Homo sapiens: one gene and its partners. The protein of the gene in region 1 purifies or fractionates together with the protein of each later gene. This does not show direct contact. Each region holds a gene or a part of one and is shown in the gene's direction. Other genes may lie near its edges. The genes, in order: BPNT1, MOCS1, TOP3A, PDPR, ABHD18, PC and FDXR.

Region 1 (3,500 bases):
ATAATATTTGCATGTAAGATGAAAAATTGGTAGTTATAAAATAGGGGCAACCAGAAACTTGATATCTTTCAGAGCCAACATGGAAGTATCAGGCAACCATATGGATTTAGAGTTCAGTTTCTCATCCTATGGGTTTCCTTTGCACTCTAAAACCGTTATTTAAAATACTTTTAGGGACAGGCATGGTGGCTCACACCTGTAATCCCAGCACTCTGGGAGGCCGAGGTGGTTGGATTGCTTGAGTCTAGGAGTTCGAGACCAGACTCGGCAACATGGTGAAACTCTGTCTCAACAAAAAATACAAAAATTAGCCAGGTATGGTGGTGCACACTTATAGTCTCAGCTACTTGGGAGGTTGAGATGGGAGGATCACCTGAGCCCATGGAGGTTGAGGCTGCAACCAGCACCATCTCTTTTTTTTTTTTCTGAGACGGAGTCTCGCTCTGTCACCAGGCTGGAGTACAGGGCCGCGATCTTGGCTCACCACAACCTCCACCTCCTGGGTTCAGGCGATTCTCCTGCCTCAGCCTCCCAAGTAGCTAGGACTACAGGCGCGCACCACCATGCCCAGCTAATTTTTTTGTATTTTTAGTAGAGATGGGGTTTCACCATGTTGGCCAGAATGGTCTTGATCTCTTGACCTCGTGATCCGCCTACCTCAGCCTCCCAAAGTGCTGGGATTACAGGCTTGAGCCACCTTACCTGGCCCCAGCACCATCTCTTAAAGAGATTATTTTTTCCCCAGTTGAATGGCCCTGGCACACTTGTGAAAAATCAGCAGGCCATAGATGTATAGGTTTCACGCTGGCCATGGTGGCTCACGCCTATAATCCCAGCACTTTGGGAGGCTGAGGCGGGCAGATCACCTGAGGTCGAGAGTTCAAGACCAGCCTGACCAACATGGAGAATCCCCGTCTCTTCTAAAAATACAAAATTAGCTGGGCGTGGTGGCACATGCCTGTAATCCCAGTTACTCAGGAGGCTGAGGCAGGAGAATTGCTTGAACCTGGGAGGCGGAGGTTACAGTGAGCCGAGATTGCGCCATTGCACTCCAGTCTGGGTGACAAGAGCAAAACTTAGTCTCAAAAAGAAGAAAAAAGAAAAGAAATAGATGTATGGGTTTCATTATGGACTCTCAGTTATATTCTATTGGTCTATATGTCTATCCTTATGCCAGTACCACACTTTCTTGCTTTGCATTAAGTTTTGCAATTGGGAAGTGTAAGTTGTCCTACTTTGTTCCTACCTTGTGCAGTTTTACATGTACCTTACAGCCTGGACAGCAGAGTGAGACCCTGTCTCATTAAATAAATAAATAAATACTTTTAGGAAGAAAATCTAATTTGTTATTTAGTAGATATGTAGTAGATTTGCTAGTAAAACATTCATTGGTAATTGGGGATAGAAGGCTATGAAACAGGTTGCTACCTTATATTTTTAGAAGAACATAAATGTCATCCTGCTTGCTTTTTATAGTTGCTTAAGTTAAACCTGTGACTTCAGATAGCCACCATAATGTCTTTAGTTTTCCAATTTTTAATTATTTAAGGCATATTCATTGGAGACTTACTATGAATAAGACACTTTGCTCTGTGGTATGGAGGAAACAAAGAAAATGAGACATGGTGGGGCTGGGCATGGTGGCTCACGCCTGTAATCTCAGCACTTTAGGAGGCCGAGGCAGGCGGATCACGAGGTCAGGAGATCGAGACCAACCTCCGCCTCCCAGGTTCAAGCAATTCTCCTGCCTCAGCCTCCTGAGTAACTGGGATTACAGGCATGTGCCACCACGCCCAGCTAATTTTGTATTTTTAGAAGAGACGGGGATTCTCCATGTTGGTCAGGCTGGTCTTGAACTCTCGACCTCAGGTGATCTGCCCGCCTCAGCCTCCCAAAGTGCTGGGATTATAGGCGTGAGCCACCATGACCAGCGTGAAACCTATACATCTATGGCCTGCTGATTTTTCACAAGTGTGCCAGGGCCATTCAACTGGGGAAAAAATAATCTCTTTAAGAGATGGTGCTGGGGCCAGGTAAGGTGGCTCAAGCCTGTAATCCCAGCACTTTGGGAGGCTGAGGTAGGCGGATCACGAGGTCAAGAGATCAAGACCATTCTGGCCAACATGGTGAAACCCCATCTCTACTAAAAATACAAAAAAATTAGCTGGGCATGGTGGTGCGCGCCTGTAGTCCTAGCTACTTGGGAGGCTGAGGCAGGAGAATCGCCTGAATCCGCTAACACGGTGAAACCCTATCTCTACTAAAAATACAAAAAATTAGCTGGGTGTGGTGGCAGGCGCCTGTAGTCCCAGCTACTTGGGAGGCTGAGGCAGGAGAATGGCATGAACCCGGGAGGCAGAGGTTGCAGTGAGCCGAGATCGCGCCACTGCACTCCAGCCTGGGTGACAGAGTGAGACTCTGTCTCAAAAAAAGCAAAAAAGAAAAGAAAGTGAGACATGGTGTTCTCCATCAGAAACATGCCCTCACTCAGAAATTCACATAATGTTATCATTGTAGTGGTTAAAGGCAGCATATCCTGAATCATATTAAATGTCCTAAACAGAAGGAATTTTCCTTTTAAATCTGCTGCCAGTTTTATTATTCATTTTTCTTTGGATTGTATGGACTGTGTCCTTAAGATAATCAGACTTGTTTTTTTAAAATCAGCACTTATATATAAAAATGAGTAGCAACTGTGCTTGTTCAAAACATTTTTTTGCCACTTTACAAGTTTTTCCTGTACCATGATCTAGAGATCAGTATATTCATTGTGCTTAGTGTTCAAATGACAACAAACTTTTATCAGTTAAGCATTTCATGTTGAAAATCATTTTTTTGTATTTTTTTTTTTTGAGATGGAGTTTTGCTCTTGTCATCCAGGCTGGAGTGCAATGGCACGATCTCTGCTCACTGCTACCTCCGCCTCCTGAGTTCAAGTGATTCTCCTGCCTCAGCCTACTGAGTAGCTGGGATTACAGCCACCCACCACCACGCCCGGCTAATTTTTGTATTTTTAGTAGAGATGGGGTTTCACCACTTTGGCCGGGCTGGTCTCGAACTCCTGACTTCAGGTGATCCACCCGCCTCGGCCTCTCAAAGTGCGGGATTACAGGTGTGAGCCACCGTGCTTGGCCTGAAAATTCTTAAATCAGACTTTTTTCTTATTCAAATGGACTTTTTCCATGATTACAAAAGAATAAGCTTTTTGTACTATCTCAAAACAGATGACATTAATTTAAGCCATCCATAATACAATTTCAAACAGGAAAAAAAGAGTAATTTTAATCTATTTAAATCTATTTTTAGAATTTTGTGTGCTTGATTTAGATATTTTCCTTCTCTCTTTTTAATTTTAGCTCGTGGTCTGGGTTGATCCTCTGGATGGAACCAAGGAATATACCGAAGGTTGATATCTCTTTTGTATTCATATTTGACAGTAGTGGGACAAGGATATGATGTTAGTTGTAAATATTTGATATTTTGTATGTTGTATGGAAAGC
Region 2 (3,500 bases), on another chromosome or scaffold:
GTTTGGCTGTGTCCCCACCCAAATCTCTTCTTGAATTGTAGTTCCCATAATCCCCACGTGTCATGGGAGGGACCCAGTAGGAGGTAATTTAATAATGGGGGTGGTTACCCTCATGCTGTTCTCATGATAGTGAGTTTTGACGAGATCTGATGATTTTTATAAGGGGCTTTTCCTGTTTTGCTCAACATTTCTTGCTGCTGCCATGTGAAGAAGGACGTGTTTGCTTCCTCTTCTGCCATGATTGTAAGTTTCCTGAGGCCTCCCTAACCATGCTGAACTGTGAGTCAATGAAACCTCTTTTCTTTATAAATTACCCAGTCTCAGGTATTTCTTTATTAGCAGCATGAGAAGGAACTAATACAGCCCCATGGCTGGCTTAAGTGTCTGCACTGGTGCTTTATCCTTGAGGCAAATGCTTCTGCTGCCTTCCCGTGCCGACAGGGAAGGATGAGGCCAACCTGTCCAGCTCCTTCAAATATAACTCCCCTCTTAGACAACCTCCCTGACATGTAGTAGGACCCCTCTGCTCCTGTACATGTGACTACTAAGCTGCGTGCACACTAGTCACTCCCTGTTTTTACAGAACCTTCTCCTGGGTGCACTTTGAGCTGTGGTCTCTATCCGTCTGGTCGGTTCCATCTGCTTTCTCTCTTTCAGTACTAATTTACCTTTCTGGGCTATCTACGGCATTCTTTCTTACCTTCCAATGCTATTATGGATTTTTAAAATCCTTCCATTATTTCTAGGGATATTTGGTAGAATGGAGCTGTCAAATAGCACTTAATTCAAACACTTTTGTTTCCATTATACAGAGTATCAAGACCTGTGTAGTACTTGGTTGTTAAGAGCAGAGTCCTGAGTCAAGTACACATGGATTTAAATGCCAGCTCTTCTTACTGTGTGAGATTAAGCAATTTTCATAATCTTTCAGAGCACCTCTTTCCTTACCTACTAAATGAGATAATTGTTATTGTGAGGCTTCAATGAGCTAATGTATGCAAAGCCCTCAGCAGAGCACCTAGCACAGAGCACTCAATGCTTAATCTTTTGGTTGTTTTTGTCAGTTTTGATTCTTAGCTTTCTTTTTAAGTTAGGCCTGGTTAATATAGGTCTGCAGAGAGCCTCTTTTCCATCCATCTTGTCTGGACAAAGAGTTTTGCCTTCCAGCCCTTTTCCCGGCCTCACCAAGAACAAGCAAGCAGTCTGACCCCCTTTCTGTTGTCCTTACAGCCCAGCTCCAGCGGCTGGAAGGGCTGAGAACCATAGGTGTTACCACCAATGGCATCAACCTGGCCCGGCTACTGCCCCAGCTTCAGAAGGCTGGTCTCAGTGCCATCAACATCAGCCTGGACACCCTGGTGCCTGCCAAGTTTGAGTTCATTGTCCGCAGGAAAGGTGAGCGGATGTGGATGGGGTGGGTGTCCCTCCCAGGGCCTGCACATAGCTGGGGAGGGCATGGCCATTGCTGAGCCAGGGGCCTGGTCACTTCCTCTTGGTGTCTGGGCTATCAGTAAGTCAAAGCACTTATTTCTCACCCCTCATCTTTGCCAAATGTATGTCAGGGACTTTGGGGGTCAGACGCTAATGACCTAGGGTGACCAACCTCCCCACCACCCCAGCCCCAGTTTGCCCAGGACTTGAGGGGGTTTTAGAATGAAGGACTTGAAGTTTTAAAACCAAGACAGTCTGTGGCAAACTGGGCCGAGTTGGTCATTCTACGATGAGCTCTGAAGAAACACGGGACAGCCCAGGGTGGAAGTAGCCACCCTGGGATGCCAGGGTCTGGGTGTATGCTGCCAGGAGGGGGTCCCCCAGCAGGCCCCCATGGTTATCCCTGTGCCCACCTGGGTATAAGCCCCTCCTATGCACCTCCTACTACAGGCACAGCCATACCCTCCACTCACCTGCCTCAGGAGGCCCAAGGTAGACAGGTGGAGCCAGCCTCGAGCTCTGGGTCACAGGAGACCAGTGCCTGGCTTCCCTTTGGCATGGACCTCATGTTGGGGCAAAGGCTCTTCAGGTTGGGATACCCTTTGATATTTGGGAGGGGGTACATGACTGAGGACTCTGGAGGATCAGAGGGGTGGCAGGGAGACCCAGATCTCCTTCCTCTTCCTTGGAAACAGCTTCAAGATCAGCCCCACCACCTTCTTTCCTTCCTTTTCTTAAACGGGGTGTGATGCCTTGCTTAATACCCTCCATGTGCTGAGGAAGCACTCATGGTGTCTCTTTCCTCTATGGAGGCCTGCTCCAGGTGCTGTGGAGGGGACAGAAGACACATAAGACATTGCCCTGTCCTTACAGGCTGCTAAGGGCCAAAAGATGTCATTCCATGGGACAGCCTTTGCTTGTCTTGTGGTACTGATTAAAGAGTTACAGAGAGGAAGAAAGAACTCTTAGCAGGAGAGAACTAGGAGGGCTTCAAGGAGGATGCATGCATGCTGGCCTTGAGGAACTGGAGGGTTTCAATCAATGGCACATACTCTGAGGGGGAGCAGGAGTACAGAACCTGCAAGGGCTCTACGGTGGGAAAGTGGGAGGTGGATCTGTGGGCTGTACTGCCCGCAAACACGTTCTCCCTTTTTGTCTCTTATTTCCTGGCACATGGATTGGAGACATCAGATCTTCCCTCCCATTCATACTCTTTTGTCCACCACCTGCCTTTGGAGGGGAGTGTTTTACAGAAAAGAAAACTTATAGTTCTAGGTTATCCTAGCAGCATTATTTTTTTCAAAGCTATACATTTTTCCCTTTACCCTCTCACTGAGCAGTCTGAAAATGCTGCAAGGAAACCATGGAGGCCATCTCTAGGCACCCTGTCTCACAGGTGACCACCCAGGCTGTGCAGGCTGGGGGTGCTGGAGGGGGCCAGGATGCAGTAGGTGATCAAGTGATTGGATGCATGAGAGAACTGGGCAGTGAGAAGTCAGCCTGGGGTCACATTGACTGTGGTTAATGATTGTTGAGACAATAATTGCTTACCAGCCCTGGAACAGCACCTGTGCGTAGTAGGTGCTCAGAGAGTATGTGTTGAGTGAATAATTGATGGACTGTTGAGGAAAAAACACTGAAACGGGAGTGGAAAACCTGCATTCTGAAAGATGGAGCCATGGGGCTTTGAGCAGAGCATTGCCTCACTCTGGGTCTTGGTTTCCTCCCGTAGACTACAAGAGGGTTCAACTAGATCCAGGGTCAGCATGCTATGGCCCACAGGCCACATCTAGCCCCCTGCCTGTTTTCATGTAGCCTTTGAGCCAAGAATGCATTTTACAGATAGCATTCAAAATCAGTTAATGATAGGGAACATTAACTATGAACCCCATTTAAGCAAAATATTGTCCCTGCAAAAAGAATCGCATTATTGTATCCCATTTGTAGATCTGTTTTACAAGACACTGTAGTCAGTTATTACTATTACATTTTGAATTTAGCCAACACTTTGTGACATGTACTTACACGGATCCTCAATTTTGCCTCTTGGCTTGCAAAGCCTACGATAT
Region 3 (3,500 bases), on another chromosome or scaffold:
CGCCATTTCCTGGCTTGCTGCTCCCAGGATGCTCAGGGGCAGGAGACCACAGTGGAGATCGACATCGCTCAGGAACGCTTTGTGGCCCATGGCCTCATGATTCTGGCCCGAAACTATCTGGATGTGTATCCATATGATCACTGGAGTGACAAGGTAATAAAGAGTGGTCCCCAGTGAGAGGGAGGACAGTTGTGTTGTGAGCCCTGAGTTCTCTAGTGGAGCAGGATCATGTTCCTTGAAATGAGGTTATTTTTTGCCTGAGTGTGCTGATGGAATCATCTGACTGTTGCACCTGCCGCTCCCTGTAGATCCTCCCTGTCTATGAGCAAGGATCCCACTTTCAGCCCAGCACCGTGGAGATGGTGGACGGGGAGACCAGCCCACCCAAGCTGCTCACCGAGGCCGACCTCATTGCCCTCATGGAGAAGCATGGCATTGGTCAGTGGCTCCTCTGGGTAACTCGCATCTCTTGAGCTAAGGCTTACAGTGTACCAGGTACAGGTTTCCTCTAGTCTTCAAACCATTCTCTAATGCAGCTGCTATATCTTTATCCCATTTTATAGTTGAAATAAGGCTCAGAGAGGTTAAGAACTTACCTAAGTTCACAAAGTGTGTATTATTAAAACCTGGTCTGAATAACTCCACAGTCAGTGCTCTTAAACCATGCACTGTGCTGTCCACATAGTAACAGAGACTTTTCCCATGGCTTTGAGGGCCCAACTGGGAGCACCCATTGGCCACATGAGGATTTGTTGTTCTTTCGAATAAGAACAGCATGTAAGGAACCAACAATTAAAACTTGGGACAGTTATCATAAAATCTATCTTCATTTTGAAGTGTCAGATAGAGCCCTGAGCCTCCTTCCCATGTGGAGCATTGGGTGAGGGTGGCAGCTGTCTCTGCAGGTCTGAACCCACACTGCTCACTCAGGCTGCTCACGCTGGCCTCATGTATGTGCCAGGACCCTGCTGATAAGTCCCATGGCTCAAGCTTTGCAGGTAGGGCCTTGTAACTAATCTGCTGTCCCCTCCATTCGTTTTTGTCAAGGCTCTCAAGGGCTTTCTCTGGCAAACCTAGTCCAGGAATACCTGCAGCACAGTGGAGGGGAAGCAGAGCTCCCTGGGCATGTGTTACATAAGCAGCTGCGTCATCCACAAAGGGAGTTTCTTAGGCCTATGACTTGGGAAGCAGTGCTTCAACGTGAAGTCCTTGACCATCACTAGGACATCCAGAAACCCTGCAGGTTTAGGTAAAATTAGTAGAGGTTCACCCGTCATGATTTATTTGATAAAAATGTATGAAGGCTGGGTGTGGTGGCTCACACCTGTAATCCCAGCATTTTGGGAGGCCAAGATGGGTGAATCACTTGAGCCCAGGAATTCAAGACCAGCTTGGGCAACACGGTAAAACCCCATCTTGCTGGGCGCAGTGGCTCACGCCTGTAATCCCAACACTTCAGGAGGCTGAGCTGGGTGGATCACCTGAGGTAGGGAGTTTAAGACCACCAACCTGACCAACATGGTGAAACTCTGTCTCTACTAAAAATACAAAAATTAGCCAGGCATGGCGGTGGGCACCTGTAGCTGAGATTGTGCCATTGTACTCCAGCCTGGGCAACAACAGCAAAACTCTGTCTTAAAACAAACAAACAAACAACAACAACAACAACAAAACAGATCTGGCTGGGCACGGTGACTCATGCCTGTAATCTTAGTACTTTGGGAGGCCAAGGCGGGTGGATCACCTAAGGTCAGGAGTTCGAGACCAGCCTGGCCAACATGGCAAAACCCCATCACTACTAAAAAAATACAAAAATTAGCTAGGCGTGGTGGCACATGCCTGTAATCCCAGCTACTTGGGAGGCTGAGGCAGGAGAATTGCATGAACCCGGGAGGTGGAGGATGCAGTGAGCCAGGATCGCAGCACTGCACTCCAGCCTGGGTGACAGAGTGAGACTCCATCTCAAAAAAAACATTTCTACAAAAAATTAGGTGCATGCCTATAGGTAGGGAGGCTGAGGTGGGAGGATCACTTGAGCCCGGAAGGCAGAGACTGAGGTACAAAGTGTGAGGCCCACAAGAGTGAGAGCTTGGACTAAGCACCAGGGACACAAGGAGGAATAAGACCTCATTTTTTAAGTTCTCAATCTAACAGAAGAACCAAACCAACACATTGAATACAATGTAATAGTTCTGCAGGGAGTAGGCAGGGAAGAAAATGTGATGGGTGGACTGGCATTTGAGCTGGACCAAAACCTCATAGTAAGACTTCTGGATCAGCGAAGGGCAGCCCAGTGCAGGGTAGGCCTGAGGAAGGGCACAGGAGCAGGAAAGCAGAAGCCTGCTGTAGCTGGATTGGAGGGGGGTGGCCATAGAAGGTGAGCCTGGAAAGATGATCCAAGCCTGACTTTGCAGGGCCTTGGCTTGCCCAGTTGAAGGGCTTAGATGGTGGTACATGGTCAGCAGGGAGTCTTCCAGGATTTCTAAGTAAAGGAACCACATAGAGGTACACTTACAAAAAAATAATAATAATATTTTTAAAAGATTATTAACAGGCTGGGCATTGTGTCTCACACCTATAATCCCAGCACTTTGGGAGACCAAGGTAGGGGGTCAGGAGTTCAAGACCAGCCTGGACAACATGGTGAAACTCCATCTCTACTAAAAATACAAAAAATTGCTAGGTGTTATGGCTGACGCCTGTAATCCCAGCTACTTAGGAGGCTGAGGCAGGAGAATTGCTTGAACCCGGGAGGTGGAGGTTGCAGTGAGCCAAGATTGTGCCACTGCACTTCAGCCTTGGTGACAGAGAGAGACTCCATCTAAAAAAAAAAAAAAAAAAAATTTATATATATATATATATAATTATTAACAGCTTTATTTATATACCATACAGTTTATCTCCTTCAAATGTATAATGTACATTTTTTAGCATATTCACAAAGTTGTGCAGCTATCACCACAGTCAGTTTTTTTGTTTTTTTTGTTGTTTGTTTGAGATGGAGTTTTGCTCTTGTTGCTGCAGGCTGGAGTGGAGTGGCACAATCTCTGCTCACTGCAACTTCCGCCACCCAGGTTCAAGCGATTCTCCTGTCTCAGCCTCCCGAGTAGCTAGGCTTACAGGCACGCACCACCACACCCAGCTAATTTTTGTTATTTTTAGTAGAGACAGGGTTTCACCATGTTGGCCAGGTTGGCTGGTCTCAAACTCCTGACCTCATGATCCGCCCACCTAGGCCTCCCAAAGTGTTAGGATTACAGGTGTTAGCCACCATGCCCGGCCCCTAAAAAAATTTGTTTTGGAGAGATAGCATCTTACTCTGTCACCCAGGCTAGGTCACAGCCATGAACCCTGGGTTTCAAGGGATCCTTCCACCTCAGCTTCCCAAGTAGCTGGGACTACAGGCATGTGTTGCCATACCCAGCTAATTTTTTTGTTGGGTTTTTTGTTTGTTTGTTTTGTTTTGTTTGAGACAGAGTCTTACTCTGTCACCCAGGCTG
Region 4 (3,500 bases), on another chromosome or scaffold:
CCTCAGCCTCCGTAGTAGCTGGGATTACAGGCGTGTGCCACCACACTGGCTAATTTTGTATTTTTAATAGAGACAGGGTTTCTCCACATTGGTCAGGCTTGTTTCGAACTCCTGACCTCAAGTGATCCGTCTGCCTCGGCCTCCCAAAGTGCTGGGATTACAGGTGTGAGCCACCTGGCTCACTTTGAAACTTTTTTTTTTCTGTAGAGACGGGGTCTTACTATGTTGCCCAGGCTGGTCTCAAACTCCTGACTTCAAGCAATCTCCTGCCTCAGCCTCCCAAAGTTCTGGGATTACAGGCATCAGCCAATGTGTCTGGCTGGCTTCTATGTTAAATACCTCCTAGGGAATCTTATCATCTGGGGTAAAATCCTCATAGTAGTCTTTTGAGAGCAGTACACAGACCCATGTTCGTTTCTTCCAGAAAAGTTAAGGAAAGTGCCCAAAACTATTCAGCTGGTCTATGGCAATTTAGGATCTTTTGATTCTGTTTGTTCTCGATTTGTAGAATATTAATTTTCTCAAATCTCACACCTGAGCCCCAACACGTGCCCTCTGTCTATATAGGTACCTTGCCGAATGGATGGTACATGGTTATCCCTCAGAAAACGTTTGGGAATTGGACCTGAAACGTTTTGGAGCCCTCCAGAGCAGCCGCACCTTTCTGCGCCACCGGGTCATGGAAGTCATGCGTAAGTGAAGCTTTATCGCAGTTGCTCCTAGTTGCAGGTATCTTCTCGGTGGCCCGTGTTGTCATTCAGAAGGAGCAAAGTTTTCCTCAGTTCTTTAACAAGTGCTTTGAGTTGGGCATTTGATTTGACTGTTTCAGGCCTGAGTTAAGGGGCTTTATGCTCCTCATGATATATACGTAACATTTTCTTTAGTGCATCGGACCTTGTTTCATTCTGAGAACAAGAAAATAGAATAGGAGTTACAGTTGGTACATAGCAGCTTCATAAATATTCTAAGCAATGCCTTCTTCCCGGTCTGCCTTGAGAGACCGTATGTCGAAGTGCGTGCTTTCTGCAGTCTGCCTTGAGAGACCCTGTGTCGAAGTGAATGCTTTCTCACTCCCACTTAGTTTTTGAGAAAATGCTTTCTCACTCCCCACTTAGTTTTTTCTTTCCAAGTCAGAGAATTTGCCGAGTTATTCTCAGAGCTTCAGGCTTCCGTGAGTGACTTTCACCATTAATCCACCCTACAGCAGCAAGATTGGGAGCCACTTCCCATATAAATACAAAACATACATTCCTGCTCTCACTCCCGTGTTCTCGCCCTGCTTCAACTTTGAAGGATTGGCCACTTCATCTTAATTTGTTATTCTACCTTGATCTCTGATTTATTTTCTAGGAAGCCCTTAGAAAGCTTTTGTATCAGGAATTGAACCAAACCACGTGGGTTCAAGTTGTAATTTCATTTTCCTGTACTGAGGAGCTGTTCTCAGACTTTGCCAAATGGTATCTAAATATTTTGGGCATACTTATGCTCAGGACTAAGTTTCTGTGTTGGCTCTGACCACCATTCTTGGTTGCAAGTAAACTGTTAGTTTGGTAGTTGAACAACATTGTTGGTGAGGACTCTGGATGGCCTTTAATGCCTGAGTGCTCACTTTTGGCCTGGGAAGAGGATGTACATCCATGGAGATGAAGGACCTAACAGCAATATGTTTAACTGCTAAGGTTCTTTAATTTTAGCAAATATTTTGGTTAAAATGTTGAACTTGGCTGGGTGTGGTGGCTCATGCCTGTAATCCCAGCACTTTGGGACGTTGAGGGAGGTAGGTCACTTGAGGTCAGGAGTTTGAGACCAGCCTAGGCAACGTAGCGAAACCCTGTCTCTACTAAAACCAAAACCAAAAAATTAGCCATGCCTAGTGGCACACACCTGAAGTCCCAGCTACTTGGGAGGCTGAGGTAGGCGAATCACCTGAGCTGGGGAAGTTGAGGCTGCAGTGAGCCATGATGGTGCCACTGTGTACTCCAGCCTGGGCAGTGGGACTGAGACCCTGTCTCAAAAAAATAAAATACAAAATCAAAGTTTTTTGTTTTAAAGTTGAACTATTATAAGCCTAAATTTCCCTACCCATAGTTACTTTGGAACCTGTACAAATCATAATTGAGCTTGAGCTTCTGCTTGGTGATATGACACTTTTGGTAGCCAATTCTCATGAAATAGAAGTGGCAGGCACATAGAAAATGGGGAAGGCGCCAGGCGCAGTGGCTCAAGCCTGTAATCCCAGCATGTTGGGAGGCTGAGGCAGGCGGATCACTTGAGGTCAGGAGGTCTGGCCTGACCAACATGGCGAAACCCTGTCTCTACTAAAAATACAAAAATTTAGCCAGATGTGGTGGTACGTGCCTGTGATCCCAGCTACTTGGCAGGCTGAGGCAGGACAATCACTTGAACCCGGGAGATGGAGGTTGCAGTGAGCCAAGATCTCACCACTGCACTCTAGCCTGGGTGATAGAGAGGGATTCCATCTCAACAAAAAATAAAAAAAAAATAGAAAAGAAAATGGGGGAGGGGATGATAGAACCGAAAGTACTAGGAGATGGAGAGATTGTCACCATGCAGAGAACCCCACCTGGCTTCCTTCTCCTGTCTCCCAACCTCCCCAAGCCTTGATGTGCCTTTTGTTTGGGATGGTGTGAGATCAGGGACCACAGATCACACTCTTCTGGCTTTTTTTACTTATTGCTGTTGAAGATTAGACCTTAAGGGAAATGAATTTTTTTTTTTTCCGAGACAGTCTTGCTCTATTGCCCAGGCTGGAGTGCCGTGGCGTGATTTCGGCTCACTGCAACCTCTGCCTCCTGGGTTCAAACAATTCTCCTGCCTCAGCCTCCCGAGTAGCTGGGATTACAGGCGCCTGCCACCATGCCTGGCTAATTTATGTATTTTTAGTAGAGACAGGGTTTCACCACATTGGTCAGGCTGATCTTGAACTCCTGACCTCGTGATCCGCCCACCTCGACCTCTCAGTGCTGGGTTTACAGACGTGAGCCACCACACCCGGCCTAAGAGAAATGAATTCTGACCCTAGCTTTGTTGTGTGAATAATGTCATTGGTACAATACAATATAACTTCTCAGATTTCAGAGCCACCTAATCAAGCTGCAATATGTACCCTTTCACTTCAGAAGTGAGTTAATTATCAGGGAGGAAATGTCTGTAACAGGTCTGAGATCCTAACACAGGCACAATGAAGAATCGAATGCCATTTTTTCACATTTTGTTACCACCTGTGTCCCACTTAGTAACCTTCTTCTCTGCTATGAAGCTTGGTAAGGTTTAGGACCCTGACCTTTCTGCCATCATTTCTACCTACTAATGTGGAATGCTGAATGTGAATACAGGCCGAGTCATGCCGTGACACGTAGCTCCAGGGAGGGACGATAGCAGCTTGGCAGGATTGTCTTTTCCTTCTGGAGCATGCCTGATACACTGGGTAATTTTGAAAATTAGACTACATTAGCCTGGAAATTGGGCCGGGCAGAGTG
Region 5 (3,500 bases), on another chromosome or scaffold:
TGCAGTGAGCCGAGATCACGCCACTGCACTTCAGCCTGGGAGACAGAGCGAGACTCCGTCTCAAAAAAAAAAATTTTTTTATGCTAAAACTATAATTTTCTGGTATTCTGCATTATTGAAACATATTCCTCATGTTATTATTAATGATTAAGTAAATTGATTCACATAAATGGTTAGATCAGTGCCCTGTACATAAGTGTTAAAAAAAACTTCCAACTGGATAGCTATATAATAGAAGAATTGTATGTGATATGTTTGACATGTTTTAGCTCTTGTTAACGGAGGAAATAATTTTTCTATGTTGTTACTTATCTAGCCCAACTTATAAATGTCACCCTTTTTAGAAATAAACCAATTGTTCAAGTCTCTCATGTCTTGAAGGATATAGTAAACCTTTCTTTTTATAGTATGATCTTTTAAGAAGTATTCATGCAGCATTTGAGTCCCTATTGGTGAGTGAGCAGACTATCCAATACTCATTGGCCCTCTGGCACAACAAAATTAAAACAAATAAACAAAAATCCGTGACTACCTAGGGTTGCTAGGATTGCTTAAGAAGAGTCTAAAGTTCTGTTATACATGTGAACGCAGAGGACCCACATGCTTGCATTAGTAAATTAGTATCAAATTTCTTTCACTCTTTTGTGTATCTAAGTGGGAGTATAGCTAAGACGTATTAGGAAGAGTAGATTTATAATCAAAGTCAAATATAAAAACACAAAAGTGCTATTATGAAGGCTTCATTTGAGAGAGATAAATGTTAACTATTATCATGTGCCAGATGCTAGGGCAATTGCTCTGTTATTATCCCCTTTACACAGAATAAAGGGAACAAAAAAGATTAAGTAACTTGCTCAAGTGGAGTCACTACTAAGCTATTTGACCTCTTCCATTCCCCATCAGTCACTTCAAAACTTAACAGAGGTTAGATGACATTGGAATAGTAGAATTTTTAAAAATTCAGTCTTTTCACACACCAAACATAAAAATAAAAGAAGCCGCCAGGTGCGGTGGCTCACATCTGTAATCCCAGCACTTCAGGAGGCCAAGGCGGGTGGATCATGACATCAGGAGTTCGAGCCCAGCCTGGCCAATATGGTAAAACCCCGTCTCTACTAAAAATACAAAAATTAGCTGGGCGTGGTGGGCACGCACCTATAGTCCCAGCTACTCAGGAGGCTGAGGCAGGAGAACCGCTTGAACCTGGGAGGTGGAGGTTGCAGTGAGCTATCGCACCACTGCATTCCCCCTGGAGGCAGAGGTTGCAGTGAGCTGAGATCGCACCACTACATTCCAGCCTGGGTGACAGTGAGACTCTGTCTCAAAAAATGAATGAATGAATAAATAAAGCCATTCCTTTATGTGCTCTAATATTTTGTGTTATTTAGAGCTTATTGATAATACAGGTGAATAAGAGACTATTCACATGATTAAAAAGGGACATACATTACATGTACACAAGCCCGTATTGTAACTTTTGGCACCAGGAAGTAAACAAATTCAGATTCATTCCACAAGAGCAAGTGCCTGGAACTAACTCTGAGGAAAAAAATTATCCAGTGGGTGGGCCGGGCGTGGTGGCTCACGCCTGTAATCCCAGCACTTTGGGAGGCCGAGGCGGGTGGATCACGAGGCCAGGAGATCAAGACCATCCTGGCTAACATGGTGAAACCCTGTCTCTACTAAAAATAGAAAAAAATTAGCTGGGCGTGGTGGCGGGTGCCTGTAGTCCCAGCTACTGCAGAGGCTGAGGCAGGAGAATGGTGTGAACCCAGAGGTCAGAGCTTGCAGTGAGCCGAGATCGCACCACTGCACTCCAGCCTGGGTGACAGAGTGAGACTCTGTCTCAAAAAAAAAATTATCCAGTGGGCAATAATTTCAAAGCCCTCTTTACTTCTTCCCTATTGCTGTCATATCTGTCTTCAAAACAAAATCTCTTTATGTGTTTACACCAACATGCAAATATCCACCTCTAATTTTTTTCCCTTCTTATGGTTCATTATAATTCACAGGGAACAAGTACTTGAGCCAAAGAAAGACAAGCATGTTGTAAAACTATGACTTCCCAACATATTGGAAATAATAATCTATTAGCAGGCTATCAGTTTCAAAGATAGTCTTTTTTTTTTTTTTTTTTTTGTCTTTTTTGAGACAGAGTCTCCCTCTGTCACTCAGGCTGGAGTGCGGTGGCATGATCTTGGCTCACTGCAACCTCCACCTCCTGGGTTCACGGCATTCTCATGCCTCAGCCTCTGCAGTAGCTGGGACTACAGGCGCCCGCCACCACGCCCGGCTAATTTTTTTCTATTTTTAGTAGAGACGGGGTTTCACCATGTTAGCCAGGATGGTCTCGATCTCCTGACCTCGTGATCCGCCTGTCTCGGCCTCCCAAAGTTCTGGGATTACAGGCGTGAGCCACCGCACCCGGCTAAAGACAGTCTTAATAGCTGTGTTTGGATGTGAGGATATGGTTAGTTGAACAAGTGGGATACAAAATTAATATCTGATAGTTATTTAAACTGGGTGAAAATATAGACATGCATTTTCTTTTTTCTTTTTTTTTTTTTTTTTTGAGCTGGAGTCTTGCTTGTCACCTAGGCTGGAGTGCAGTGGCGCGATCTTGGCTCACTGCATCCTCCGCCTCCCAGGTTCAAGCAATTCTCCTGCCTCAGCCTCTCGAGTAGCTGGGATTACAGGCACCCACCACCACACCCGGCTAATGTTTGTATTCTTAGTAGAGATGGGGTTTCACCATGTTGGCCAGGCTGGTCTCGAACTCCTGACCTTGTGATCCGCCCTCCTTGGCCTTCCAAAGTGCTGGGATTACAGGCGTAAGCCACCGCGCCTGGCCTAGACATGCATTTTCTTAAAAGCCTGGAGGAAAGATATGAAAAGGTTAACAGTAGATGTGAGTGATGGGATTATGATGTTTTCCCCTTCCTATGTTTTGGATTTTCTGAATATTCTGCTATAAAAATGTATTATACAATAGGAAAAAAACAGCTTTAGAAAAAAATATGAGTGGGGCAGGGTGTCGCAGGACTGTAGTTCCAGATACTCAACAGGCTGAGGTGGGAAGATAGCTTGAGGCCAAGAGTTTGAGGCTGCAGCGTGCTATGATTGCACCTGAGAGTAACCACTGCACTCAAGCCTAGGCAACATAGTGAGATCTTGTCTCTAAAAAAAAAGAAAAAAGAAAAGAAAAAATATCTTATGGAAGATAAAATTTGTCTATTCCTTTTCTTTTTCTTTCTTTTTTTTTTGAAACAGAGTTTCGCTCTTGTTGCCCAGGTTGGAGTGCAATGGTGTGATCTCAGCTCACACAACCTCTGCCTCCCAGGTTCAAGCAATTCTCCTGCCTCAGCCTCCCGAGTAGCTGGGATTATAGGCATGTGCCACCACACCCGGCTAATTTTTTGTAATTTTAGTAGAGACGGGGTTTCTCCATGTTGATCAGGCTGGTCTCAAACTCCCGACTTCAGGTGATCCGCCTGCCTCGG
Region 6 (3,500 bases), on another chromosome or scaffold:
GTGGTGTGTGAGGAGCTGGGGAGGAAGAGGACAGGAGAGCAAGATGGCTTGGAAGCCCAGGGAACGAGCAGCAAGGCGGGAGCATGCCCGCTGGACTCAGCTGGGAGGAGTGACTTAGAGTGCCAGAGTGTGGTCTGTTGCGGTCAAGGCCCTCTTTCGAGAAGCGTGGACGAGGGGCAAGGGTGACTGCTGTGGGCCACGCTGCTGGAGAAAAAGGCTGAGCCCTGTTCTAGGCTGCGGGGAGGCAGGAAGGGTGGCCTTCAGCACATGCTTTGGTGTAAACAAGTATGGAGGGAGCAGGCCCAGCCCGTGACAGCTTAGGGGGCTCTGCTGGAGTGAGGAGAGGGCTGAGGGACGGGGAAGTGCCCCTCTGCAGGGAGGCCCAGAAGCTGTGCTGGCCCAGGGCAGCATCTTCAGCCTTTTCTCTTTCAGCCTTTTCTCCTCTGCCTTCCCTGTCTGTGCTGCATGGTGACCCCCTCCCACCCGCCTCTGTCCTGCAGACCAACATCGCCTTCCTGCAGAATGTGCTCAACAACCAGCAGTTCCTGGCAGGCACTGTGGACACCCAGTTCATCGACGAGAACCCAGAGCTGTTCCAGCTGCGGCCTGCACAGAACCGGGCCCAAAAGCTGTTGCACTACCTCGGTCTGGCCCGAGACTGCCCTGCCCTGCCCTCCCCTCCCCTCCGCTCTCCAATCTCTTGCTCCTACCTCCTTGCCACTCCCCATGACCAAAGAACTCCTTAGTGCCCCCTGCCCCTCACCCCTGCCCTCATTCTGGCCCTGCGTCCTCTTGTCCTGCACCCTGCCATTCACTGCTCTCCTTGCTTCTGATCTGAGAGACCCCACCTTTCCATCCACGTGGTCCTCAAGACGTCCCCACTGCCTGTACCCAGGAGGCCCTGGCTTTGGAGAGGACAGGGGCCAGCTGGAAGCCCGGGGATCCTGGAGGGATGTGTCCCTGTCCCTGAGCCCAGCCACTCTCACTGCTGCCCTCGACTCAGCCTCTGCCCAGCCCACCCTGACCCACTGCCCGCTTTCTCCCCAGGCCATGTCATGGTAAACGGTCCAACCACCCCGATTCCCGTCAAGGCCAGCCCCAGCCCCACGGACCCCGTTGTCCCTGCAGTGCCCATAGGTAGGTGAGATCCATTCTGTCAACTCATGGGGGAGACAGGAGGTTGCCACCTGCAGGATGGGCACCAATGCCCCTGTCTACCCTAGGCCCGCCCCCGGCTGGTTTCAGAGACATCCTGCTGCGAGAGGGGCCTGAGGGCTTTGCTCGAGCTGTGCGGAACCACCCGGGGCTGCTGCTGATGGACACGACCTTCAGGGACGCCCACCAGTCACTGCTGGCCACTCGTGTGCGCACCCACGATCTCAAAAAGATCGCCCCCTATGTTGCCCACAACTTCAGCAAGCTCTTCAGCATGGAGAACTGGGGAGGTAGGCTGGCATGCTGCGCAGCGCCTGGTAGGAATGGGCGCCCGCTCTGTGGCCAGTCCCACAGGCTTAGGCCACTGGGGACAAGCTAGAGACGCTGACACGAAGAACACCAAAGAGGAAGGACCGAAGAAGGCACAGCGCCCTCTCCGGCCAGGCCTGGTGCCGGCACGAGGTTGCAGAGCTGAGACCAGGTGCATCCTGGGAGGTCCAGGGTCAGGAGGAGACACCTGCCTGTTAATTATAGCACAGAGAGGTAGAGGAGAAGATGGGATTATAAAGGGGGCATAGAAGGGACACAAATGAGCCTGGTCTCCCCCTTAGAGATCAGACAAGGGAAAAATCTGTGGGGGTTGGAGCAGGGAACACAGGTATGGCGAAGATGAGCAGGACCTGGTATTGGGGCCAGAGGCTTGTGCTGCAGAGCTAGCTCCAAGGCCTGGTGGAGTTCCCCAGGCATGCAGAGCTGATCTGGGCCTCTCGGTTCCTGTGCAGGAGCCACGTTTGACGTCGCCATGCGCTTCCTGTATGAGTGCCCCTGGCGGCGGCTGCAGGAGCTCCGGGAGCTCATCCCCAACATCCCTTTCCAGATGCTGCTGCGGGGGGCCAATGCTGTGGGCTACACCAACTACCCAGACAACGTGGTCTTCAAGTGAGCCTGGGGTGGGGTGGGCAGACGCTACCTGGTGTGGCCCAGAGGGTACCGAGCCATGTCGTGATGGCCTCTGTTCTCCACGGTCAGCCTGACACCAAGTCTCTCTGTGGCCACACGCAGCAGGGGCTGCTGTTTGGAAATATCGAGAAGTGTAAAATTGGAGTTGCAGAACCAGACAGGCTTCTAAATCACTCCCTCACTCCTGGGGCAGTGGAAGGTCTGAGACTTGCCTGGGTCACTCGGTGCAGGGCTGGGATTGGAACCCAGGCCTCAAGACTCCTTGCTCAGTACCCTCTTCCACAGCCTGCCACTGGCCTAGCTGATCCTCCAGGGCCTGGTCCACACTTGTGTGGCCACCCCCCGCCTGTGGATGCCACACCCCCTGCCAGGCGAGACCCTCAGATCTCATTCCCCAGGGGCCATAGAGTGGGTCAGGAAGGAGCCAGGGAAGACTGTTCAGAGGGAGGTGGGGTGGGGCTCAGCCCTGGGCTCTCTCACCCTTGCAGGTTCTGTGAAGTGGCCAAAGAGAATGGCATGGATGTCTTCCGTGTGTTTGACTCCCTCAACTACTTGCCCAACATGCTGCTGGGCATGGAGGCGGCAGGAAGTGCCGGAGGCGTGGTGGAGGCTGCCATCTCATACACGGGCGACGTGGCCGACCCCAGCCGCACCAAGTACTCACTGCAGTACTACATGGGCTTGGCCGAAGAGCTGGTGCGAGCTGGCACCCACATCCTGTGCATCAAGGTGCCTGGGCCACTTGTCCGTCCCTCCCTCTCTGCCCCGGCCATGTCCCCGCCACCCACAGGCACACATCCTGCCCTCTCTACCATCTCTCTCTCTCTCTCTCCCACTTCCCCCAGGACATGGCCGGGCTGCTGAAGCCCACGGCCTGCACCATGCTGGTCAGCTCCCTCCGGGACCGCTTCCCCGACCTCCCACTGCACATCCACACCCACGACACGTCAGGGGCAGGCGTGGCAGCCATGCTGGCCTGTGCCCAGGCTGGAGCTGATGTGGTGGATGTGGCAGCTGATTCCATGTCTGGGATGACTTCACAGCCCAGCATGGGGGCCCTGGTGGCCTGTACCAGAGGGACTCCCCTGGACACAGGTAGGAAGAACAGCAGCCCGTGGCCACACCCCTCTCAAAGCCGCAGCCACCACCAGTCCCAGTAGTGTTGGACCTGCCTAGGATCCAGATGCCCTGCTCTGGCCTTGCCGCCTTCTGTCACCTGAGTCAGACATGGGACCTGAGCTAGCCCTGGGTCCTGGAAGAGTCACACATTTCTAAGGCCTCCTCTGACTCTGGCCTCCCTGCAGAGGTGCCCATGGAGCGCGTGTTTGACTACAGTGAGTACTGGGAGGGGGCTCGGGGACTGTACGCGGCCTTCGACTGCACGG
Region 7 (3,500 bases), on another chromosome or scaffold:
CTCATGACAACCTGCAAAGCAGGTGTCGTGCCTCTTGCTTCACAGGTAAGGATGCTAGGGCCAAGTGAGGTTGTCCAAGCTTCCACCGTGGAGCAGGGATGGCACTGGGATCTGAGCGAAGGCAGCTCCATGTGAGGCCATCCATGTTAATCCATTCAGTAATCATTTACTGGACGTAACATGTTCTGGGCGCAGGCTTTACTGGGAACATGGGGGTGAACAGGACAGACGTGGTCCCTGTGCTCGAGGACCTGACATTCGAATGTGGAGGGGACAGGTGGATAATTTACAAGGTATTTTAGGGCTCTGACGGCTATAAGCACAGAGACTGGGGTGCGGGGAGGGGGTCCATGCCCAGTCTGGAGGGAGAGATGTCCCAATTGCAGTCTGAAGGACAGTAGATGTCAGGTTGGGGGACAATAGCAGGAGTGTCCCAGGCACAGAGAACTGCGTGAACAAAGAGGAAGAGAATGGCTCTCTGGGGAAAGGGCAAGTTCTGGAAGGTGCCTGTGTGCAGTAAGGCGTGAGGAGGTGAGAGCCGAGGCTGAGAGGTAGGTAGGACCCAGATCCTGGGGGGCTTGGAAGCCATTGACCAGGCTCTGGAGGCAGGTTTCGCTGGGAGGTGTCCACAGCTGCCTCCTCTTCCCTGATCAGAGTCTCCCGGGGCATCTTATCAAAATGCACATTCCTGGGCCTAACTTGGACCTAATCAAACTCTGTGGCTGGGCCCAAGAGTCAGCAATGTTAAACACCCCGAAGGATTCTTGTGCCCACAGCTGTAGATGGTTGGCTTCACTGGAGAGTTTTCGGGCTGCTGTTTTCCTTCAGGATGCCCCCTCTGCCTGCAGCGTAGGTCCAGGCAGGGCTGGTGGCCAGATAGCAGTGGGGAGCTGCTGGGGTTGTAGTGAGGAAGAGGACTGGGAGGATGGGGGATTGATGGGATCAGGTCGGGGGTCAGGGAGGAGCCCCAGGTTCCAGCTTGGGCTCTGAGTGGATGGGGTCGAGGGAACAGGAGCAGAAGTGGGGAGCGGTTTGGGGCAAGGGGACTTGGCTTGAAACTGGATGGATTTGAGATGTCTGGGGTGGGACATCCAAGGGTCTCAGGTTTGGAGCTTGGGGAGATGTCTGGGCAGGAGAGAGAGAGTAGAAAGTCATCAGCAAGTTCAGGGGAATTTGGGGTCGCAGGAGGGAGTGGGTTAAATCCTCAGGGAGGAGGGAGGGGGGCCAATCGGAAGAACCTCAGAGAATGTCCTTGTTAGCGGGGAGCAGCTAGAGGGACAGGAGGGAGGGAAGGAAGGAAGGAGGAAACCTGGAAGATGAGGTCAGCCACGAGAGATAAGGGGTAAGAACATCCGGCAGACTTAGCGTTCCGGAGGTGGCCCTGGAGAGGACATCGTGACCCAGAGTGAAGGATCTGTCGCAGGAAAGAATGGAAGATAAGGACAGAGAGGTTGGTTGGGTGAGGTGTTGACCTCTAGGCCGAGCAGTTTGAACTTTATGCTGTGGCACTGGGCCCCAGCGAAGATTTTTGAGCAAGGCAGTGACATACAACAACAGAATAGTAATGATAGCTCTCTTCTTGATTGAACACTCAGAGTAGGTTGCACCCCGGGCTGCCTGATTACTCATTTAACCTTGAGCAGGACACCACAGGGCTCTTCTTTTGGACAGAGAAGAAACTTTCCCCAGTGCACAGAGCCAGCTAGTGCTAGAGCTGGGACTGGCATCCAAGGCTACCTGTTTGACTCCAAGCCCAGAGCGCTTTGTGGGTACAACATCGTGGGGCTTGAGGGAGGTGGTTTGGGTAGCCCCCTGTGGCTGGCCTGGGATGGAGAGAGGCAGGAGGTGGGGGAGGGTGGACTTGGGTGCAGGCAGGGGAGTGGAGGGGAAGGGGGGATTTGGGCAAAGGCGAAGAGGTGGGTGGGAGCCTTTGTTGGGGGTAGGGAGACTGATGGGCAGGGGCTTCTTTGCCTTGAGTCCCAGTGAAGCTGGAGGTGTCATAGCGGGGACCTAAGATAGGATGGGGGGCTGGGCGTGTCAGCTGTGGGACCCCTGACTGCTTTACTGCTAACCGGCCTGTGGCCCAGAGTCTCACCATCCTGACCTCCTGGTGCTTTCCAGCAGCCATGAGAGAGAGCTGTCATCCATCCTAGTGTGCAGAGGGGGAGACTGAGACTTGGGGAGGCCCTGGGACTTGCTGGGATCATGTGGCTGGTTGGTGGCAGAGCCATACCAGACTTGCCTGCTGGACCCCCGACCCTGTGCCTTTCACACGGCCTCTCAAGGTGCCCTGGGAAGGCGGTCATGCAGAACCAGTGCCTGAGACTGTCTTTCTAAGAGTGGGAGCAGGCCCATTTCCACCTCTCTTTCCCGTGAATTCCCAGCCGTGCCCCCTCCCTGTCCTGCTGCTCCCCTTTCCCCAGAGCATGGTCCTGGGCACTAGAGCTAAGGCACCTGTGAATTCAGAGGGTGGCCCTCAGGTCCTCAGACTGGCTGGGACCTGAGGGTCCCAAGTGTCGAAGGGTTGGAGGCCAGGGCTGTGGGTTGTGCTTGACCTGAGAAGATAAAGAAGCCGCCCTGATATAATTCCAGTCGGGGGAAGCCACGGCCTTGTCAGCTGGCCACATTTCTCCCCATCTCTGAGGGCCGGCCGTCGTCGTCTTTTTTTTTTTTTTTTTTTTTTTTTTTGAGACAGAGTCTTGCTCTGTCACCCAGGCTGGAGTGCAATGGCGCGATCTTCGCTCACTGCAACCTCTGCCTCCTGGGTTCAAGCGGTTCTCCTGCCTCAGCCTCCCAAGTAGCTGGGATTGCAGGTGCCTACCACCACGCTCAGCTAATCTTTGTATTTTTAGTAGAGACAGGGTTTCACCATGTTGGTCAGGCTGGTCTCGAACTCCTGACCTCAGGTTATCCACCTGCCTCAGCCTCCCAAAGTGCTGGGCTGACAGGCGCGAGCCACCCAAGGAGTGAGTGCTCTTTTTCCTTGCAGAGGGTGGAAGCCTTGTGTTCTCAGCCCAGGGTCCTGAACTCTCCTGCTCTGTCTGGGGAAGGGGAGGACCTGGGGGCGTCCCAGCCTCTCTCTCTCGGCCCCACCAGCTGCCACCCTGTTCCCCAGCAGCACCCCCAGGCCCACGTGGACATCTACGAGAAACAGCCTGTGCCCTTTGGCCTGGTGCGCTTTGGTGTGGCGCCTGATCACCCCGAGGTGAAGGTGGGTGTCTCTGGGCCTGGAGGCTGGGGTTTGGAGACTTTGGTCAAGATGAGGAGGGCAGGGAGGCTCCCTGGCTGGATGACAGGACTTCATGCCGTCTGTGCCCATGCCACCCAGCTTCCCTCCTGGGGACACAGAGTGGTGAGGGTGGTGCAGACTTGGTCCCTGGAGCTGCCTTACCCTCTAACCCCTCCCATTCCCGGGGGACCTGGCAGAATGTCATCAACACATTTACCCAGACGGCCCATTCTGGCCGCTGTGCCTTCTGGGGCAACGTGGAGGTGGGCAG

The links.
Region 2: the proteins of BPNT1 (region 1) and MOCS1 purify together in Homo sapiens (affinity purification with mass spectrometry; 2 studies listed by BioGRID and IntAct, with this or other methods). This does not show direct contact.
Region 3: the proteins of BPNT1 (region 1) and TOP3A purify together in Homo sapiens (affinity purification with mass spectrometry; 2 studies listed by BioGRID and IntAct, with this or other methods). This does not show direct contact.
Region 4: the proteins of BPNT1 (region 1) and PDPR purify together in Homo sapiens (affinity purification with mass spectrometry; 2 studies listed by BioGRID and IntAct, with this or other methods). This does not show direct contact.
Region 5: the proteins of BPNT1 (region 1) and ABHD18 purify together in Homo sapiens (affinity purification with mass spectrometry; 2 studies listed by BioGRID and IntAct, with this or other methods). This does not show direct contact.
Region 6: the proteins of BPNT1 (region 1) and PC purify together in Homo sapiens (affinity purification with mass spectrometry; 2 studies listed by BioGRID and IntAct, with this or other methods). This does not show direct contact.
Region 7: the proteins of BPNT1 (region 1) and FDXR purify together in Homo sapiens (affinity purification with mass spectrometry; 2 studies listed by BioGRID and IntAct, with this or other methods). This does not show direct contact.

The regions. Positions count from the first base shown.
Region 1 is NC_000001.11:220,069,289-220,072,788, reverse strand, and holds part of BPNT1 (3'(2'),5'-bisphosphate nucleotidase 1), read left to right. Parts: intron 1-3,356; coding exon 3,357-3,405; intron 3,406-3,500. UniProt on the Homo sapiens protein: Phosphatase that converts 3'(2')-phosphoadenosine 5'-phosphate (PAP) to AMP and inositol 1,4-bisphosphate (Ins(1,4)P2) to inositol 4-phosphate. Is also able to hydrolyze adenosine 3'-phosphate 5'-phosphosulfate (PAPS) to adenosine 5'-phosphosulfate (APS).
Region 2 is NC_000006.12:39,913,963-39,917,462, reverse strand, and holds part of MOCS1 (molybdenum cofactor biosynthesis protein 1), read left to right. Parts: intron 1-1,230; coding exon 1,231-1,395; intron 1,396-3,500. UniProt on the Homo sapiens protein: Isoform MOCS1A and isoform MOCS1B probably form a complex that catalyzes the conversion of 5'-GTP to cyclic pyranopterin monophosphate (cPMP).
Region 3 is NC_000017.11:18,287,495-18,290,994, reverse strand, and holds part of TOP3A (DNA topoisomerase 3-alpha), read left to right. Parts: coding exon 1-153; intron 154-308; coding exon 309-438; coding exon of another isoform or gene 439-473; exon of another isoform or gene 474-495; intron 496-3,500. UniProt on the Homo sapiens protein: Releases the supercoiling and torsional tension of DNA introduced during the DNA replication and transcription by transiently cleaving and rejoining one strand of the DNA duplex.
Region 4 is NC_000016.10:70,138,332-70,141,831, forward strand, and holds part of PDPR (pyruvate dehydrogenase phosphatase regulatory subunit, mitochondrial isoform 1 precursor), read left to right. Parts: intron 1-567; coding exon 568-692; intron 693-3,500. UniProt on the Homo sapiens protein: Decreases the sensitivity of PDP1 to magnesium ions, and this inhibition is reversed by the polyamine spermine.
Region 5 is NC_000004.12:128,031,406-128,034,905, forward strand, and holds part of ABHD18 (protein ABHD18), read left to right. Parts: exon of another isoform or gene 1-371; intron 372-3,500.
Region 6 is NC_000011.10:66,850,384-66,853,883, reverse strand, and holds part of PC (pyruvate carboxylase, mitochondrial precursor), read left to right. Parts: intron 1-500; coding exon 501-645; intron 646-1,047; coding exon 1,048-1,137; intron 1,138-1,223; coding exon 1,224-1,445; intron 1,446-1,937; coding exon 1,938-2,094; intron 2,095-2,603; coding exon 2,604-2,844; intron 2,845-2,960; coding exon 2,961-3,210; intron 3,211-3,419; coding exon 3,420-3,500. UniProt on the Homo sapiens protein: Pyruvate carboxylase catalyzes a 2-step reaction, involving the ATP-dependent carboxylation of the covalently attached biotin in the first step and the transfer of the carboxyl group to pyruvate in the second.
Region 7 is NC_000017.11:74,866,495-74,869,994, reverse strand, and holds part of FDXR (NADPH:adrenodoxin oxidoreductase, mitochondrial isoform 1 precursor), read left to right. Parts: intron 1-1,241; exon of another isoform or gene 1,242-1,429; coding exon of another isoform or gene 1,430-1,450; intron 1,451-2,989; coding exon of another isoform or gene 2,990-3,118; coding exon 3,119-3,211; intron 3,212-3,426; coding exon 3,427-3,500. UniProt on the Homo sapiens protein: Serves as the first electron transfer protein in all the mitochondrial P450 systems including cholesterol side chain cleavage in all steroidogenic tissues, steroid 11-beta hydroxylation in the adrenal cortex, 25-OH-vitamin D3-24 hydroxylation in the kidney, and sterol C-27 hydroxylation in the liver.